Homo sapiens: one gene and its partners. The protein of the gene in region 1 interacts with the protein of each later gene in a biochemical or structural test. Each region holds a gene or a part of one and is shown in the gene's direction. Other genes may lie near its edges.

Region 1 (4,906 bases):
ATCCCTGAGAAAGCCCCCTAATGTCAATCTGTCATTGCCTAATCTCGATTTGAGAATTTTTTTTTTTTTTTTTTTGAGATAGAGTTTCTGCTCTTGTTGCCCAGGCTGGAGTACAGTGGCATGATCTCGGTTCATTGCAACCTCTGCCTCCTGGGTTCAAGCGATTCTTCTGCTTTAGCCTCCTGAGTAGCTGGGACTACAGGCACATGCCACCATGCCTGGCTAATTTTGTGTATTTTTAGTAGAGAGGGGATTTCACCATGTTGGCCAGACTGGTCTCAAACTCCTGACCTCAGGTGATTCACCCACCTTGGCCTCCCCAAGTTGTGGGAATACAGGCGTGAGCCACCACGCCTGGCTGATTTGGGAAAATTAAGACACCTCTACTATTTTTTTTTTAACCAGAGTGTCTCAAGGTAAATTTTGGAAATGTATGAAATATCTGTACAGTTTTTACTTGAATAATTTTTATAGACTTCTGACATAGGATGACCCTAGTCATAAAGTTTACGGCCATATACTTTTGGTTCCACACTTCGCTTCCATACCCCGCCATCTGTGGGACACACTGTATTCACTCTGTGTGTCGGTTTGCTAGGGCTGTCTTGACAAATTACTGCAAACTGATGGCTCAAACAACAGAAATGAATGCTTTCACAGTTCAGGAGGCCAGAAGTCCTAAATCAAGGTGCTGACAGGAGGCCATAGTCTCTCTCCGAGCTACTAGCGGTTGCTAGCAATCCTTGGCATTTCTTGGCTTGCAGCTGTGTAACTCCAATCCCTGCCTCCATTGTCACAAGCCTGTCTCCCCTCTGTGTGTGTCTTCACATGACATTCTCCTCTGAGTGTGTCTGTCTCTGTGTGGGTCTCCTTTTTTTTTTTATTTTTTTTTTGAGATGGAGTTTCCCTCTTGTTGCCCAGGCTGGGGTGCAATGGCGTGATCACAGCTCACGGCAAACTCTGCCTTCTTGCACGTGAATTTTGTGGAATACAATTCAACCCCTTAACACTCTGATTTTCTAGCTCTTTGAACAGATTCTCTAGTTGTCTTTTAGGGTGTTTTAAATACATCCCCTCCAAAAAGAGACAATGGTGTAAGTATACTGGCTTTGGGTTTGTCCCCTGCAGAGTCATAGCTCCCCTGTGTCAGGCACAGCACAGGGGTCTCTGAACCTTACATTCAAGCCATGGCTTGTCTAGTCCTGAGGCACTGCCTGCACATCTGGTTACCCAACTTCTGGAAGGATCCAAGAGACTTGGGGAAGGTCCAGGAAGACAGTGGCACAGAAGGCCTGTTTTCCATGGGCAGGCTGATGAGAGGTCTGTGTCACATGCAGAGGGAATCGTGGCAAAGGTGAGTGTGGGTCTGCTTCTGCAAGCCTCGCAATTTCAGCTGAGTCACAACAGCAAAAGTCCAAGAGAGAGACCAGAAGAAGGCGTAAAGCTTGGGGTGGCTAAGGCTGATATTACAAATAAGTTCCAGAGAGTGAAGTCCAGCCTGTGAGAGGCCCATAGCACTGCCCTTTAGAGGATCAACATGGAGATCGTTAGGTCTCCCTCCAAACCAGCCTGCATGATACTCACTGCTCTGTCAACATATAGCAAAGTGGAACATGGTTCTTTTGTTTTTTTTTTTTTTTGAGACAAAGTCTTGCTCTGTCGCCAGGCTGGAGTGCAGTGGTGCGATCTTGGCTCACTGCAACCTCCACCTCCCAGGTTCAAGCAATTCTCTGCCTCAGGCTCCTGAGTAGCTGGGATTATAGGCGCCTGCCACCACACCTGGCTAATTTTTGTATTTTTAGTAGAGACGGGGTTTCACCATCTTGGCCAGGCTGGTCTTGAACTCCTGACCTCATGAGCCACCCACCTCGGCCTCCCAAAGTGCTGGGATTACAGGTGTGAGCCACCACACCCAGCCGGAACATGGTCTTAACATTAGGAAGAAATCTTTTGATTGGAAAACTTTGAGGGACTTGAGGGATTTTTTTTTTTTTGGTCCTCTTTCTATCACTTCATATTTCCAAATCACTTTTGATGAGCATGTATTTTCCTGTAACTTCCAAAAAATTAGTAAGAGAAAGATCTGGGGTAGCTCTCCCAGCTGATGTGCTGTTTTCTAACCAGTGAGATCTCAGGATAGCACATTCTTTAGACTAACTCAGTTTACCAAATATTCCTGGCATTTGGGCAGTACAAGAGTGTTCCAGAACAAGTCTCTACCCTGACGGAATCTAGAATCTTGAAAGGTGAACAAAGCAACAGATGTGAGCAATTCAAAAGTAGAACAGGACAGTATCCCTCAAGTCCAAAGCATATAAAGTGAAGGCTGGGAGCCTGAGAAGTGCACTGTGGGTCAGGGTGAAAGTTAAGCTTCTGTCTGGCGTCGACACTTGAGTTCCAATGGAAAGGGTCCGACCTTAGTGGAGGAAAAATGTCTTACCCATCCCTCTTTTGCTCTAAGTCTTGCCCTTCCCCACTGGTGTGGGTATCAGGAGGGGATGGGCAGTAATATAACTTTTGTAGGCAGACCTAGGGGCTGCTGCAGCTGGCCTAGTTTATTACCCTAACTCTGCTGGGACTTGCAGTCAGCACTGTCCATGGTCGCTACCCTTTTATAGCCAGGCCCTGATGTCACCCAGCCACAGAGCCTGGGGGTTGGACCATCCCTGTTGCCCCCTGTGCTGGGTGGGCAGAAGGCCTCCTCCACTATGAAGCCACCTTGCACCAAGAAGACACTGGGCACAACTCCTTATGAGGGTTCCCACCCTCAGCCCCATCTCACCTATGAGCCATCTTTGAGGTTCTGTCCCTTTCTCATTTGTTGGTCTTCAGTCCCTGGACACCTTCTCTCCCCAGCCTGACTCATCCCAAAGTTCTCACAAGCAACCAGCATTGTCCCAGTCCAGGTATGGTCTCCCACCCACAGCTGCAGTCATTGACAGGCTGACTCATTCCAGAGATGCCTTTCTGTCTTCCCTAAAGCCCATTCTCACCAGTTAGATCTTGGATGTCCATCTTTTTGCATAGTCTTTAAATTGTCACCAGCAGCTTGAGGCCTCCACACGAGCCTGGTTATACTCAGCATCACTGCATCCACCTGGGATGTTTTCAAACACTTTTGCAGCTCATTGGCTCCCAGAACCCAATTGGAAGCCCTGTGTGATCCTAGGTATAACGTCCCCAACTGGACCATCAGAGCCTTGCACATGGGGCTAGCGTGGTGCCCTTTTCCTCTCCAACTCTCTTGGACTGAATACATGCATATTGCCCCAAGCTCAACTCAAGGGGGTGATTTCTCTGTCTCCATGGGGGATACCTGTATGTGGGGACTCCACGTGCACTCCTCTTGATGTCAGTGTCCTGGAGATGGCTCCCAATTCTGCCCCCCAGCAGGGATCTTCACTGCCCTCTCCTAAGCTGGGACCCATGCCAGCCAATGTGATTTCCTGGCAGACTCTGACCTACTGGCATATTGCCAACCCAGGGCCCAGCTTACATACTAGTAGTCCAGCAAACTCAGAGGGCTACATCTGTACAAACCCATGAACCCAGATCAATTTCAAGTAAACACAGTCCCTTTCTTCTATGGGGTAGGGGAAAAATTAGCATAGAACTGGAGTCTTACAGACATGGACAGAGATTCCCAGCCTACAACTTACTAGGTCTGTGACTTAAGGAAGACGTATGGGCCCTCTGAGCCCCAGTTTTTTCAGCTGTGAAGTGGGAGAAAGGCTTACCTACCTTATAAGGTTTTCATGAGAATTAAATGAGCTGCTGTATATAGAGTGTCTGGCATCCTGCTTGGTCCATGGTAGTCCCCACAAATATTAATTAGTTCTCTTCTTTCTGGGATGCCTCCAGCCTCAGACTATATGTTGTCATCATGGGGATATAGAATTTCATCTCTTGGGCTGGGCGTGGTGGCTCACGCCTGTAATCCCAGCACTTTGGGAGGCCAAAGCAGGTGGATTGCTTGGGGTCAGGAGTTTGAAACCAGCCTGGCCAACATGGTGAAACCCTGTCTCTACTAAACTACAAAAAAAATTAGCTGAGTATGGTGGTGGGCGCCTGTAATCCCAGCTACTAGGGAGGCTGAGGCAGGAGAATTGCTTGAACCCGGGAGGCAGAGGTTGCAGTGAGCTGAGATCGCGCCACTGCACTCCAGCCTGGGTGACAGAGTGAGACTCCATCTCAAAAAAAAAAAAAAGAATTTCATCTCTTTTGTTTTTTTGTATATTTCTCTGCATACTTTTCCATATCTACCTTTTTTTTTTTTTTTTTGAGACGGAATCTCGCTCTGTCGCCCAGGCTTGGGTACAGTGGCATGATCTCAGCTCACTGAAACCTCCGTCTTCCGGGTTCAAGTGATTCTCCTGCCTCAGCCTCCTGAGTAGCTGGGATTACCAGTGCGCACCACCACACCCGGCTAATTTTTGTATTTTTAGTAGAGACAAGGTTTCACCATGTTGGTCAGGCTGATCTCAAACTCCTGATCTCGTGGTCCTCCTGCCTCGGCCTTCCAAAATGCTGGGATTGCAGGCGTGAGCCACCATGCCTGGCCCATCTCTCTTTTTAAATGGTGGCATTCCATTGGAAAAATACACCATGAAAATTTACTGAATCATCTTCCTATTGAGAGAAATTTTACTAGTTTTCAGTTTCTAGTTGAGCACAGGTTGTTTTGTTGTTCTGCAGAGTTGCTTCTGCAGGATAAAATTCTCTAGCGTGGCATTACTGGGTTACAGGGTAGTCACATCTCAATGGTTCTTGTTCAACATGGCCAGATTCCCTATGGAACACTGAGCTCACTCACATGTCTCTAGCAGTGCACGAGTAGGCCTTGTTCCTTTTTGGCATTGCTGATTTTTGATTGAATACTTTTTTTTTTTTTAAGCTTTTTGGCTAC
Region 2 (4,906 bases), on another chromosome or scaffold:
GGGACCTTATGAGTGAGGAGGTCCCAGTTTAACAGTGTAAACCTAGTAATAAATAGCAGCTGTTAGCTGGCCTGAGTTTTAGGGGAGACTGTAGGGATTATGGAAAGTGAGCAGATTAAAGTCCTTCTGCATTTGAAGGAAGAAGCTCCCACGCAGCTATATCCTGTTCTTACTGTGCAGGAATATGGACCGGTTTTGCCTTATCTTTTTATTTTTCAAGAGAATCTAGAATTATAAATAAAGTATAAATGCATATAAGCAAATATGTGAAATCCTCCAATTTTAGTATATTAGTAATAGCTCAGTTTTTACACAAACACTGCATAGGCCAAATAAATACTTTTTGTTTGGGCAGATTGGTTATGCATGTGTGAAGCAAAATGAAAAAAGAGAAGTGATTTGGTTAATTTTGGGGGCTCTGCCTTACTTTTAAGCCTTAGACACATTGTAAACGTTTTAGGATTGGTTATTTCATAGATTTGTTGTACCTCTTCCAAGTATAAGTTCTTTTTTCCTGAAGCCTACCCAAATACTTTTCTCATCAGATTTCCCCTAATTTGAATTTTTAATGGAGACGAAGGGAAATTATAATGGGGCTAGTAGCTCAAAAATTTTTAACGTAATTTGCTTTTTCAAATTTTCAAACTGCTATAATAGGTGAAAAAAATATAGCAGTAATTTTATTGATGTGACCAAAATTTATTTAAATTATGTATATTATTAAAACTATATTTTAAAACAATGGTTAAATTGCAGTAATAAAGCTCTAAGTATCATCAATGCCTCTTCTAATATCACTGTCCGATTAGATCTTGAACAGTTTTTAATTATATTTTAGATTGTTAGAAACGGATAGTAAGTCTTTAAGATCTGTAAATGGGTCAAGAAGAAACAGTGGCTCTTCTCTTGTGTCGAGTTCATCAGCCTCTAGCAACCTCAGTCACCTTGAAGAAGATTCTTGGATTCTTTGGGGAAGAATTGTTAATGAATGGGAAGATGTACGCAAAAAGAAGGAAAAGCAAGTTAAGGTATTCATGTTCTTTGTTGAAGTTCTTATTCTTATTCCATAGTGCGTCAGACATAACTTAATAGAGGATTGGGAAAAAAACCCCAAATACAACTTCCAAGCTATATATTAAAGAGGTCTGCTTTATTTGTTTTCACTTACTTGTACCCCTAAAAGTTTTAATTTGTAGACATCAGTTGTTACAGAGGTCCTGATCATATAGAAATATATAACTGAAAATTATTTTATTTACTTATTATTATTTTATAAAGACTCACTTTGTTGCTCAGGCTGGAGTGCAGTGATGCAGTCATAGCTCACTATAACCTCGAATTTCTGGGCTTAAGCTGTTCTCCTGCCTCAGGCTCCTGAGTAGCTATGATTACAGGTGTGTGTCACCACACCTCGCTAATTTTTTATTTTCCTTTTTGTAGAGATAGGGTCTTGCTTTGTTGCCCAGGCTGGTCTCAAACTCCTGGCCTCAAGCAGTCTTCCTACCTCCGCCTCTCCAAGTGTTGTGAGCTACTACACCCGGCCCGAAAATTGTTTTAGAAATTAAATTCTCTCATTTTATTGATTCAGAAATGAAGTTGTGATATCCTGCATTCTTGAATAACAGTATTTTCCTTTTTTTTTTTTTTTTTGCCTTCAACAGCCCTTTGAATGTTGGGTACTGTACCATCATTCACAGCTCTGCAGGTTTCAAGTCCATTACCTTAAGAGGTCACACACTGAGGTGAAATGATCATTATTAATCCCCTGACCAGAAGAGGATACACCCAGGGCCCAATCTTACCCTTGACTTACAGGGTTCCCTAGTCTTATTATAAAGCTAGCTTTGTGAGTTACAAATTTAATGATGTCTTCTACTTCATTCCAACCCCCTAATAAGTCTTCCTTGGCTTGCAAGATAGGACACTTAAATAATTCATTTTTGTAATTTTATTTTATTTTTAGGAACTTGTTCATAAAGGGATACCCCATCACTTTAGAGCAATAGTTTGGCAACTTTTATGCAGTGCACAAAGTATGCCAATTAAGGATCAGTATTCAGAACTCCTGAAAATGACCTCGCCTTGTGAAAAATTGATCCGAAGGGACATTGCTAGAACTTACCCTGAACACAACTTTTTTAAGGAAAAAGATAGCCTTGGACAGGAGGTTTTATTTAATGTAATGAAGGTAAGTTTTATTTATTCATTTTTTGAAATGAAATGAATTCCTGGAAGGTTGAAATTATACATTTTTCATGATGAAGCATGACCTCCCACCACAATAATCAGTTGCTTTGGCAGTGAAATTGGTTTTAGCATCATTTTTGCCTTAATTCTTATGCTACATTACTATCTAGTATAGAGAACTTGTTAGAACATTTACTACGTTATTTAGCATTAGTTGATGGAAATGGAATAGCTTAAAAGTCACATATCATAGAGGGATCCTCATGAAAAGGAATAATTCACCATCTGTGAAGTTCAAAACCTGGGATGTGGGTTTCTCCTATCATATCTGTGTTCCTACAGTGAGCAAATTTTTCTGCTTTCTATGGCCAGCACTGTTAAGAGCACTTAGCCCTTGAAAGGTGTACCATTGTCATTTTTTCTTCAATATTGCCATTTCCCTTCCCACAGTTACTTTTTCTTTTAGCTACTTCTTTGAAATACTGACTTCTTGTTAAATCATTTCAATTTCGCCAATCCTTTGCCTTAAACCTAGTCTAGTTTTATATACATCAATATAAATTTTACTTGAATTTTTTTTTTTTTTTTTGAGATGGAGTTGCACTCTTTTTGCCCAGGCTGGAGTGCAGCGGTGTGATCTCAGCTCACTGCAACCTCCACCTCCCAGGTTCAAGCAATTCTCCTGCCTCAGCCTCCCTAGTAGCTGGGATTACATGCGCCCGCCACTACGCCCAGCTAATTTTTGTATTTTTAGTAGAGACAGGGTTTCACTATGTTGGCCAGGCTGATCTCGAACTCCTGGCCTCAGGTGATCCGCCTGCCTCTGCCTCCCAAAGTGCTGGGATTATAGGCATGAGCCACTGTGCCCAGCTCAATTTTACTTGATTTTTAAGCCCTGTTACAAATTCCTTTATTTTATTTTATTTTATTTTATTTTATTTTATTTTATTTTATGTCTTTAGAGCTAGCAAGTTTGGATTGGGAAATTGTCAAAATAAAATTTCATGTAATAAAACATTTGCTTTTTAAATATGTATAGGATAACATCTATAACAAGCAAGCAAGAGCTTTTCTCAAAAATAAATGTTTTTTAATCTGTCTGTCTTGCCAATTTTAGGTTTTTTGGAGAAGGAAGGTATAACTTACCATGTATTTTGAACAACTTTTTTTTACTTTTTAGGCTTACTCTTTAGTAGATCGTGAGGTTGGTTACTGTCAAGGAAGTGCTTTTATAGTTGGATTGTTGCTTATGCAGGTAAGTTAATATAAGTATTAAATGTCCAATGAAATTTTTTATTAAGTTGGATTGGAGAGTTTAAAAAGCATCTTTGTTTTATTAAATGTAAGTGGATATGGGTATTTTTTCCTAGGCATAATTTGAATACAAATATTTAGTTTGCATTTTAAAAGATTAAACATGTTAAAATAACATAGTAATATCTTACCACCAAATGAAATTTCAACTTCATGATAGATACATTTTTACTGTAATATTCTACTAAAGCTTGAATCTACAGTAGTTTAAAATCTTATTTGTTAACATTTAATGAAGAGTAATCTTTTTCTAACCAAGGAGGAAATAATTAAAGTGTTGGTAAGAAAATCTTATTTATATTGTACAACATCTTTAGAGATTTATAGAGAATTTAATTTATCATGGAGCTAAAAGCTTGTTATGCATACCTCACTGCATGCCCTAAAATAGTGGTACTCAGCCACTTTTACCCCCTAGGGATATAACTTTGTTATTGAGTGTGCAGTGGGTTTGGGTGGAATGTTTTCAGAATTCGGGGGTAGGATAATCATAGCTTTGAAGGGAAATGGCATATAGTATTATCTCTTCAGCTTTGTTGAAATGTTAAGTCCATCTTACTCTTTATTTAGTCTCAGATTTTAGTCCTGAAAAGGAATCATGGAGATACTTGGTTTGAGTCATATAGGGTGGTTTTGCAACTCAGTTCTGCACATGCTGTATGAATTTAGGCTAGATTATTTAACCTCTCTCTGAGCCTTAGTAAGATAATACTATCTACTTTCAGATTAGTTGTGAGGGTTATTTGAGGTAATGTATGTAGAAGCCTAGCATGGTGTTTGGCTCATAGGAGATAGGCAGTGAAAGTTCAGTGGCTTACCCAAGATCACACATCCTGGTAGATAAAAGCAAAGTAGGAATCAGAAACCGTTTCCTGATGCTTTGCTTCAGCTTCCCAACTGCTTTGAGTTTTAAAGCTCTTGTTGCTGTCAGGAGTATACACTTTTCTAAGTAGAAGAGACCTGATGTCAGAGACACTGATTTATAATAAAAATAATTTTTACTTTGTGTTACAGCATATATAAGAACACATAAGAAGTGCTCCCAGTGGTTATTGATTTCTAAGTGGAATTAGGTTATAAATAATACAATGCAAAACTAGATTTGTTAATGTTAAGGTATAGTTGTTTAACAAAATTATGATTTTCCAGCTTTGCGCAGTGGCAGTATCGTAGCCAGTGAGGTTTATCCGAGGCGCAATTATTGCTAATTGAAATTATGATTTTCCTACTTTATTTAGTATTGGTAGATCCTTCATTATTGAACTCAGACATCCTTATTATCAGTCTAGTGATTTTTGCTGCTGTTCTATTCCTTTTATTTTCCTGTTAGCTCCACAATAACCTTTTAGTAGTCATTTCTCTTGGGCATCTAAAGAGCAGTTTTTCTCTGCTTGAGGTCTGAATC
Region 3 (4,906 bases), on another chromosome or scaffold:
TTGGCTATTTCTTCCAGTTTTATTTTATCTGTACATTAAATGATCACTCATTTCCATTTTAATCTTAACTAAATTATTGAAAACATTGTTAACAGGATAGAATTAGATTGAGAGTTCTATTAAAGCAGGGAATGTGTCATTTTACTTTTCATGCATTTTGGCTTCGGGTCAGTATTCGACCCCTTGTCTCTCAGTAATGATGGCTGAATAAAAGAGCGAGCTAGAATAGGTGCAGCAAACCACCATGGCACATGTATATCTATGTAACAAACCTGCACATTCTGCACATGTATCCCAGAACTTAAAATAAAAATTAAAAAATAACAAAAGAAAGAGCTAGAGAGAGAATGAGGAAAGGATGGAGAGAGGGAGAGAGAGATGGAGAGAGAACAAGGAAAGGATGGAGAGAGGGAGAGAGAGATGGAGAGAGAACGAGGAAAGGATGGAGAGGGAGAGAGAGATGGAGAGAGAACGAGGAAAGGATGGAGAGAGGGAGAGAGAGATGGAGAGAGAATGAGGAAAGGATGGAGAGAGGGAGAGAGAGATGGAGAAGCAGGGTGGGAAGAGCTTCAGAAGAACTAGAAACAAAATGTTTACTGGAACTATTCTACAAAGACTAAGATGTCTCTAGGGAACAGGACTAAGCACATAGGGAGGTGATTCAGGAACTTTTATTTTTAATTATAATCATATTTACATTTTTACATTCATCAATTTTTATGAATACTATGATCTCCCTAGGTGACTCTGATGATTAACCATATTGGGAAATCCCTGAATTGATAAACACTGTTTGTGTTTAAATATGTCCTACATCTGGCTGTAAAGCAACAGAGCCATGTTACTCGGTCTTACTCATGAGCATGTTGTGAGAGCCTGTGCAACCTGCCTGTATAAAATAAAGATGAACTATGTCTATGGCACATCTATATTGAGCAACTGAAACATTGGCTATGACAAAAAAAGTTCCCTGATTTGAAACAAGTTACATCCTAGAAAGGAAGGCAATTACTGATCCTATGTAAGGATGTTAAGTGAAGACAGATTCAAGGAGAAAATGGTATGGAGTGTGAAGGCTAGCACATTTATGATAACCACCTTGAGTTTCTGGAGTACAATATAACATATTGAGATCCAGTATCTTAATTCTACTCCCATATCGGGCTAAATTGAATTTTTTTCATAAATCTAAAGAGATTACCAGAAGTAGCCAATGATCCCTTCAGTGCTTTGTTGGTGTCTTAACATATTGATGATCTGTTTAGATGTTCTGTTCAGGAACTGTATTATGTTGAGTCTATCCATAAGTTTGAGAGAATTAATATCTTTGCAACACTGAGTCATTAAATTATGAATAGGAAAACTTCTTAACCTTATTAAGAATTTCTTTTTTTTAAATTATTAGTATTATACTTTAAGTTTTAGGGTACATGTGCACAATGTGCAGGTTAGTTACATATGTATACATGTGCCATGCTGGTGTGCTGGACCCATTAACTCGTCATTTAGCATTAGGTATATCTCCTAATGCTATCCCTCCCCCCTCCCCCCACCCCACTACAGTCTCCAAAGTGTGATGTTCCCTTTCCTGTGTCCATGTGTTCTCATTGTTCAATTCCCACCTATGAGTGAGAATATGCGGTGTTTGGTTTTTTGTTCTTGCGATAGTTTACTAAGAATGATGATTTCCAATTTCATCCATGTCCCTACAAAGGATATGAACTCATCATTTTTTATGGCTGCATAGTATTCCATGGTGTATATGTGCCACATTTTCTTAATCCAGTCTATCATTGTTGGACATTTGGACTGGTTGCAAGTCTTTGCTATTGTGAATAGTGCCGCAATAAACATACGTGTGCATGTGTCTTTATAGCAGCATGATTTATAGTCTTTGGGTATATACCCAGTAATGGGATGGCTGGGTCAAATGGTATTTCTAGTTCTAGATCCCTGAGGAATGGCCACACTGACTTCCACAAGGGTTGAACTAGTTTACAGTCCCACCAACAGTGTAAAAGTGTTCCTATTTCTCCACATCCTCTCCAGCACCTGTTGTTTCCTGACTTTTTAATGATTGCCATTCTAACTGGTGTGAGATGGTATCTCATTGTGGTTTTGATTTGCATTTCTCTGATGGCCAGTGATGGTGAGCATTTTTTCATGTGTTTTTTGGCTGCATAAATGTCTTCTTTTGAGAAGTGTCTGTTCATGTCCTTCACCCACTGTTTGATGGGGTTGTTTGTTTTTTTCTTGTAAATTTGTTTTGAGTTCATTGTAGATTCTGGATATTAGCCCTTTGTCAGATGAGTAGGTTGCGAAAATTTTCTCCCATGTTGTAGGTTGCCTGTTCACTCTGATGGTAGTTTCTTTTGCTGTGCAGAAGCTCTTTAGTTTAATTAGATCCCATTTGTCAATTTTGTCTTTTGTTGTCATTGCTTTTGGTGTTTTAGGCATGAAGTCCTTGCCCATGCCTATGTCCTGAATGGTAATGCCTAGGTTTTCTTCTAGGGTTTTTATGGTTTTATGTCTAACATTCAAGTCTTTAATCCATCTTGAATTAATTTTTGTATAAGGTGTAAGGGAGGGATCCAGTTTCTTTAATTTCTCTCAGAAATATTTGGAAGTTTCATTCTATAAACATTGCATGTATTTTGTTAATTTTATTCCTAGGTATTTGATGCTAGCTTATTGCTATTTTACGTGATACTATTTTTAAATTTGTATTTTATTTGTAGCTTCTTAAAAATACATTTTAATGTAAAGATACCTAAAGATCAAATGGAAGAGAATGGAGAATAATGTGATTTGCAAACACTATCAGTGATGATATACTATCAGAAAAAGGAAAGTTTAGGCAAGATACATTACTAAATCGTAATTGATAAGGGGTTAAATCCAAGGATTGAACAATTAAAGGAAGAAGTATAAAAATCAGAAATTTTAGTGGGAGACATTGACATACCTCACTAAATAGCTATTGGAATAGTAAACAAGAGAAAAAAAACACTATGCACAAGAAAAATCTAAACAACATAATTAATGCATTAGATATAATTGAAATATATAGATCACATGACCCTCCAAAGACAGACAACATATTCTTTAAGATGTACTGAAATATTTACAAAAATTGACCATATGGTGTACTATAAAGTCTCAGTAATTTGCAATGATTTACATAATTCAGATTGTATTCATTGATTACAATGAAATTACAATAGATGTATTTTTGAAAGAAATAGCTAAAAAAAAAAAAAGGCCCCACATCTGTAATGATAACAATTCACTTCTGTATAATCCTTGCAACGATGAAAAAACTGAAACAAAAATTATAAAATATTTTAAACTTAATAATATCATAAATTTTGTATACCAAACCTTGCGAGATCCAGCTAAAGTGGGGTTCAGATGGAAATTTATAACTTATATGTACACATTAGAAAAGAATAAAAGTTGAATTGTTGATTCAAGCTTCCACTTCAAGAGGTTAGGGAAAAAAATAGGAAATCATACTAAAGAAATGTGTAAAGAATATAATAAAGTTTTTAGAAACAACTAAAGTAGAAATAAATATATCACTCATAAAATTAACATACCCAAAAGTTAATTTACTTTATTTGAGTAATACAATTGGAAAATTTCTAGAATGGTTGATCGAGACAAAAATGGAACCATAAATTACTGATTTTAGGAATCAGAAAAAAGAAATCGCTGCATAGTCTACAATTATGTTTAGATGTTAAAGAAACAATTACCAAAAAAGAAGAAGAATACAATATATTTGATCATTTGCAAAGTGGGCAAGCATTTTCAAATTTAAATTTAGGAAAGTTGAGAAGAAAGATAAGATCTGAATAGTAATATCTATTAAATAAATTCAATCCATTACTAAAAATTCTCACAGAGAGAAAACCGTAAGTCTAGATTGCTATACTGGTGAATACTTCCAAACATTTAAGGTATTTTGGGGCAATCTATTCCAAAAAATATGTTTTTGAGATTTGTGTTATTGCATGTATTTGTGATATGTTCCTTTTAAAATATAGAGTAATATTTTATGTGTGTGTGCATATAAGACAGAGAGAGGAAGAGAGAGAGGGAGAGAGAATTGTAGTATAGGTGTATACTACATCTCATTTATGTATTCATCTGTTGATAATGTTTTGGTTTTTTCCAGTTTGGGGCTCTTATGAATAAGGCTGTCATGAACATTTTTGTATAAATCTTCATGTAGACAAACGTTTACATTTTTCTTGGGTAAGTACTGAGGAGCAGAATTATTATATTGCACAGTGTCTGTTTAAATTTATACTAAATTGCCAACATCTTTTCCAAAGTGGTTGGACAATTTTACACCTCCCCCAAATTTTATAAGTCCAGTTACTTCACACCAACATTTGGTATTGTTGGAGTTGTTTCATTTAACCCATTCCAATACAGGTGTGCAGAGCTGTATCACTATGGTTTTAACTTTCATTTCTTTGATGACTGACATTGAGCATATTTTCATATACTTAAGGACTATTCATACATATTTTTGTAAGGAATTTGTTCGGATATTTTCCTGTTTTTAAAATTTTCTTGCCTTCATATTAATTGTAAATATTATTTCTATATTTTGAATAAAAGCCCTTTTTCAGATATATGTATTTCCATAGAATTGCCTTCTCATTTTCTTAATACTATCTTTTGAAGAACAGCTTTTAATTTTGATGACATACAAATTAAGTATTTGTATGGTTTTTTGTTTGTTTGCTTTGGGTTTTGTTTATGTGTGTCTGTGTGTGTGTGTGTATCCTTTCTAAGAAAGCTTAAATTTTAAAATCTCAAAGAATTTCTCTAGCATTTTCTTCCAGATATTTTATAGTTTAGCCTTTCTGTTTATATCTGTATTTTAGTTTTT
Region 4 (5,483 bases), on another chromosome or scaffold:
GAGAGCAGGGAAGGGAGATTGGGAGAATGGTTGATAAATGTTGCTGGGGACATAAGTATAGGGATTGGTGGCCAGTCTGGATCCCTGGTACAGAGATTGCTTTGGGCAGCAGTGGTGTGCCACGGGGGCTGGGTGCACACCCCCACACAGCCCGGGGATATCTTCCACAGGCATAGGCAGAGCTCAGGACACCGGGAGTGTGCATGGAGAGGCAGTGATAGGGAGGGGGGGGTCTCCCACAGGTGGGAGGTGCAGTGGGGCATATGTATGATCTCTTTTCAGAGGGGAACAGTGACCCTTGACCTTGACTAAATGGCCATGGGTGGCCTTGTGTGCCCTGAGTAAACAGGAGCTTTGGGCTGGTATTCAGTCCTGGTGTTGGAGTATTGGAAGTCAGGCACATTCCAGAGAACCCACTCCCCTTTGAGAGCGCAGGGTAGCTATATGCAGGGGGGCCGCAGGTGGGGACTCGTTCACTGGTGCCTGTGCAGAGCTCTCAGAGCCTGTGGAGTCAGGAGTGTTTCCCATAAGGCATACTTTCTTCTTGGAGCCTGTGTTCAGTCTTGGGCAGTGAGCATGGCCCAAATGCCCCCCACCCCAGGTTCTCAGCACCTGGTCCCTCAGTCAATCTATCCTTGGCGAGTAATGGCTCCCCAGAATGGCATGGGATGGAAAGACCCCTGTGCTTAGAGTGTTCACATTCCTTGTAGGGCAGGAGGTAGCGTATCTGTGTACAGATGAAAGGGGTTGTGGGGTTTGGAAGTCCCAGTTTCCTCTGGGGTGAGATAGGTCCTGAAGTGTGTGCTTGGATGAATGGATTTGGGGAGGGAGGGATTCTGTGCATGTGGAGGGGGCTGCTACAAGCTACATAGGCAGGAAAGCCAAAGTGGGTGAGGGACTGGGGCAGACTGTCCTGGCTGGGGTGGTGATGGGTGTGGGGGAGTTGTGCAGAATGATGTCACAGGCCCGGGGTGCCAGGTTGGCAGTCTGAGGTCAGAGGCTAAGGGTGAGGGATCCAGGGAGGGATTGCTATGCTGGTGCAGACAAGGTGCTAAGCACCTGGACTCAGGTGCTGGAAGTGGGAGTGGAGGAAAAGGGGTGACCTGACAGGAGACCCTTGATAGCTGGTGGGAGGTGGGAAGAGGGTGTCTCTAGCTCTAGGGCAGTAGCCAGTGTGGATGACCTGAACCTCCTGATTGAGGCTCCCCTAGCCTGTGGAGGCCTTGGAGGCTTTCAGATGATGCCTGTGACGTTTTTGCCTCCCAGGAAGCTGTGCCAATGGCTTTGAGCCAAAGTCCTCCAAAAGTCCTAATAGGATGGGCCAGGTTCTGGTCCTGAGTTAGCCGTGGGCATGCCAGGGTGTGAAGGGCCCTGCACAGGGTACAAATGGTCCCCAGGAGAGAACCTTTCTGCCAGCGTTTCCTCCCGCAGAAGGCCCAGGTGTTTGCCAGTGAGGGAGCCCAGACTTGCCCAACGCTTCTCAGCTTGGGGTGGGTCCAGGTCTGGGTCCTGGGCTGGGAAGAAAGGAAGGAAGTGAGCCCTTGCTTGTGCGCCTCTGCAGCCCAGGTTCCCTGCCTTCACAGCCCCGCTAGAGGTGGGATCACCCCCACTTACTGGTGAGCAAATAGGCTGGGGGGGGTTGGTGTCAGGTTACATGGTTTAGTTGATGGCGCAAGCCCAGGTCCAAAGCCCATGCTCTTCTCAAACAGCCAGAGGTGGGGGCCGGAAGGAGGGATTGGCTGTTGGGGAGTAGTGGGAGCAGGGGCGGTGAGCAGGGGCGGTGGGCAGGGCCAGGTGCGCAGGGGAGAAACAAGGCGCCTTGGAGTTCAGGTAAAGAAAGTTGGGGAGGATGACCACCGGAGCCGGGTAAGGAAGGGAAAGGGAGCTCCGGGCGCGGGGCGAGGCCGGGCGCTGGCAGAAGAACGGGTCGGGCTGGTGAGGGACTCGGGTGCTACCCGGCTCTGGACGGGCGGGAAGAGGCCGGGACGCTGTTCCACCAGCACCTGCGGGTGCGGAGCGCGACCCCCCGCCTCGGCTCCTGGCAACCAGGAAAGTTCCCAGTTCCGGTTCCAAGGAGGCGAGCAGGTGAGGCCGACGGGGCGGGGCGGCTCTGGCTCCCGGGGTTCACTCCTCACCCCTCCGGGCGACCCGCGTTGCCATGGCGACCGCCGCGGTGCAGCCCGCCCCCGCCCTCCCCCGTGCGGGAGGGGTCGGGTCCCCAGCCCTCGGCCGATGCGGAGCCCGCGGGGCTGGAATGCGGGGTCCCGGGCGGTTCGGGGCCGCGCGCCCGGCTCTCCGGGCTGCTTCCGGCCTGGCCCGGGCGGCGGGCGGGGGGAGGGCAGCCCGGCAGGCGAGGGGGAAGGAGCGGAGACGAGCCCGGCCGACGCGGCTTTGTCTCCTTTGTTCCCGGCGGTGGCAGCGCCGCGCGGGAGGGGCGGGCAGCGGGCGCAGTTTTCCGCCCCTCGGTCTCCGGGTAACAGCTGCGGCTCCGCCAGACCCGGGGAGAGGCCGCTGCGCGCGGAGCCCGAGCCCGGAGCGGCCGACGCCCGCCTCGGCGCGCACATCCCGCGGGGCCCGGCCGGGTGGTGAGTGCGGGGCTCGGGGCCAGGGCGGCGAGGAACGGGGCTCCCGAGGTGGAACGGGCCGGGGCCCCGATCCCGCCGGGCAGGGGCGGCCTGGGTGAGTGGTGGGCGGCTTTGGTTTTGAGAGTTGGGACCACACTTCTCCGCGCGAAGGGAAACTCTGGCGACTCCGCCTGGAACGCGATTGGGAGACTGAGGAGGTGGAGCTGCTCCTCCGCGCCCCCTCCTCGCCGTCGCCGCCGGGGACCGGCCGGCCCCTTCCCCGCCCTCCCAGGGCCAGTGATGGGGTCCTCGCCTCGGGGTCTGGGGGTTGGGGAGGGTCAAGGACGAGCCGAGTGGGGAGGTCGGGGCTTCCCCTCAGTAGTAACAGCCCTTTCTGGCTGCTCCCGGTGGGACTGACAAAGGCGGACCTCGAGCCTCCTGACCCCCGGGCGGGTGGGGGGGACCCTCCTCTCCACACACAGACATATTAAGTGGGTGATCGATGAGCGCCTTGGGTCATCGCAGGTGCCTGGTAAATGGTGGATCTCCCCACCCCTCCTCAACACACAGAAAACAGGGCGGGCAGCGGGCACCACTGCACTGTCAATGAATAACTCACCTCTGTAGTGAACCCTGGGAGCTGAGCAGGAGGGTGAAACGGGAAGGCCGGTTTCCCACTAACTGGCAGGCAAGGCAAATGTGGGCTGTCCTATGGCCCCTCTGCAGGTGCGGAATGGCGGGGTTTGTGAGCCCCTTTTGTTGTCGAGGACAGCTCCACGGGGGTCCGGGAGGTGCTTGCTCTACAGACAGAAGTTGGGCAGTCTTGCGCCCCCTGAAAAGGTTCAGAGTAGGGTGGCCCCAGAAGAGACTCCAGGGCATGTGTGGGGGAGCACTGGGCACAGGCAGAGTTAGGCTTTGGCTGTGAGTCTGAGCAGGGCCTCAGATATTGGGAATGGGCAGGAGATCCTGGCTGTGTAAGTTGGGGATGTGAGGTCTGGTTCTAGATCAGCCTTTTCAGTCTGCCCTGGCCTGGTCATTAATAAAAGTGGGGCCAATGTGTTCCCTTTGAGAGACCAAGTGGCTTGGAGGGATTGTGGGCCCCCTATCTCCCCTACTTGTTGGGTTTTCTTGGGTGTGAAATGGGGGTTCGTTCACCATACAGGGAGCATCTGGTCTGTGCTGAAGTCTGTGTAAGTTGCTGGGGCCTCTGAATCAGAAGCCATACTCCCTGCCTTCAAGGAGCTTCAAGTCCAGAGTAGGAGGGTGGAACAGGGAGAAAGGTGACCCTGGTTGGCATCACTAATGCCAGGCACACACTGTTTCATGTTTACTGGTCAGAGCAATCCTGCCTCCCATTGTACAACTAGGAAATCTGAGGCTCGGAAAGCCTGAGGCAGAGCGGCCGTGCCTGTCAGGGTGGTGGCTAGGTGTGTCCATTCTGTCCACCGCATGCAGCGGCCTCCTCAGGAGCCTGGGAGGACAGGGGAGGCTCCCCAGGGAGAGGATGGTTGGTGTAGGAGTTAATGGGATAGCGAGGGAGTGGGCATTCCAGGCAGCGGCAAGAGCCTGTGCAGCGGTTGGAGGAGCCAAGCAGCCTGCAGTTCAGGCTGGCAGGAACGAAGGGCATGTGTGGGGGAGCACTGGCATGGATCGGGTGGGAGAGGTGTGGACTGGAGGGGTAGGCCTTTATCCCTCCCGCTCTGGGGTGCCCCAGAGGCTCTTGGGGGAGGGGTGTACTCAATTCTGCTCAAGGAAAGTCCTGAGAAGTTGGGAGTTGGGAGGCTAGATTGGAGGGGCTGGGAGCTGCTCAGTGGCCTGTGGCAGAGATTAAGTGAAATCCATGTGCCTGAAATGGAGGAGAAAAAGTCACTGCTCTTCTTTCTGTCCTCCTTCCGACACCCATGGTATGTGTGGAGGGGCAAGGGGTGCTAGGTCCTGATTCACAGGGAGACTGCTGGCAGAAGCCTGACCACTTTCCCTGGAGTGGGTCAGCGGCCGACCTCCTCAGTGGCCTGGCCAGGAGCTGTTCTGATCCCGCCCATTTCTTCCTGTTGTCTCCTCATCCAGTGTTTTTTTTTTGTTTTTGTTTTTAACCATTTTTTCATCTCCCAAGGCTCTGTCATGCATCAATGCAGTTTTGATTTCACATATGGGGAGTGGTTTTGTTACTGCCCCTTGAGGGCTGGAGAACTTTGGCACGCAGTAGGCTCTGAGCAAATATTTGTAAGCATGTAGGAGTGAGTATTGGTCTAACTATGGGACCCTGTGCCCAAGGCCCATCCCTGGCATGCGGTGGCAGGAGAATTGAACAGTAGCCCCTTGCAAGAGGTGGCCTCTGCCCATCCTCAGGTGGACTCTGTCTTCCCATGGGAAGAAACTTTCTTTCCTCATCCCTTGGAAACTAGGTGGGGGGCTCTTGGGCAGCCTGGTCTTGCCACAGTCCTGGGATCCTGGCCGGGTTCGAGACTTTCCCTGCTGCCCCCTTCCCCCCGCCCCCTTGGGTGGCTAACAGAGGCAGCCTTGTTCCTGCTCCCATAGAGCTGCCCTGTTTTCTGCACACTAAAAATGGAAACCCCCAAGCTATTTCGGGAGCAGTGCCCAGCCAGGCTGTGACCACGGCCCCCCTGCTCCCACCGGGCTGTGGCCACAGTGTCCCGGCTTCCACCAGGCTGCTGGACCCTCCCCTGAGCCTTGTGCCCGGCCCTGTTCACTTCAGGGCAGCCTCAGGAGTACCCTGCTCAGGCCTCATCTGCTAGGATGAGCCGACCTGGGAGAAGCAAACGCTTGGGATATTTTGCACAGACAGCTTGGCAGCTGGGTGATGGGAGGGGCTGGGCAACGTGGCCTGGGCACAGGCAAGTAGGGGAAGTGTCTCCCAGTCTGAGATGCATTGTCTGTCCCAGCACTTCACCAACCTTG

Evidence for each region. Proteins that work in one complex are often made in the same cells at the same time.
Region 2: the proteins of LDB3 (region 1) and EVI5 interact in a test that uses a peptide from one of them, tested with the Homo sapiens proteins (one large-scale study listed by IntAct).
Region 3: the proteins of LDB3 (region 1) and OR8G1 interact in a test that uses a peptide from one of them, tested with the Homo sapiens proteins (one large-scale study listed by IntAct).
Region 4: the proteins of LDB3 (region 1) and PLXNB1 interact in a test that uses a peptide from one of them, tested with the Homo sapiens proteins (one large-scale study listed by IntAct).

What each region holds. Positions count from the first base shown.
Region 1 is NC_000010.11:86,726,962-86,731,867, forward strand, and holds part of LDB3 (LIM domain-binding protein 3), read left to right. Parts: intron 1-4,906. UniProt on the Homo sapiens protein: May function as an adapter in striated muscle to couple protein kinase C-mediated signaling via its LIM domains to the cytoskeleton.
Region 2 is NC_000001.11:92,700,677-92,705,582, reverse strand, and holds part of EVI5 (ecotropic viral integration site 5 protein homolog), read left to right. Parts: intron 1-838; coding exon 839-1,028; intron 1,029-1,661; coding exon of another isoform or gene 1,662-1,742; intron 1,743-1,750; exon of another isoform or gene 1,751-1,846; intron 1,847-1,963; coding exon 1,964-2,188; intron 2,189-3,367; coding exon 3,368-3,442; intron 3,443-4,906. UniProt on the Homo sapiens protein: Functions as a regulator of cell cycle progression by stabilizing the FBXO5 protein and promoting cyclin-A accumulation during interphase. May play a role in cytokinesis.
Region 3 is NC_000011.10:124,243,621-124,248,526, forward strand, and holds part of OR8G1 (olfactory receptor 8G1), read left to right. Parts: intron 1-4,180; 5' UTR 4,181-4,260; intron 4,261-4,906. UniProt on the Homo sapiens protein: Odorant receptor.
Region 4 is NC_000003.12:48,426,355-48,431,837, reverse strand, and holds the start of PLXNB1 (plexin-B1 precursor), read left to right. Parts: upstream 1-1,751; 5' UTR 1,752-1,830; exon of another isoform or gene 1,831-2,085; intron 2,086-2,493; exon of another isoform or gene 2,494-5,483. UniProt on the Homo sapiens protein: Receptor for SEMA4D. Plays a role in GABAergic synapse development. Mediates SEMA4A- and SEMA4D-dependent inhibitory synapse development. Plays a role in RHOA activation and subsequent changes of the actin cytoskeleton.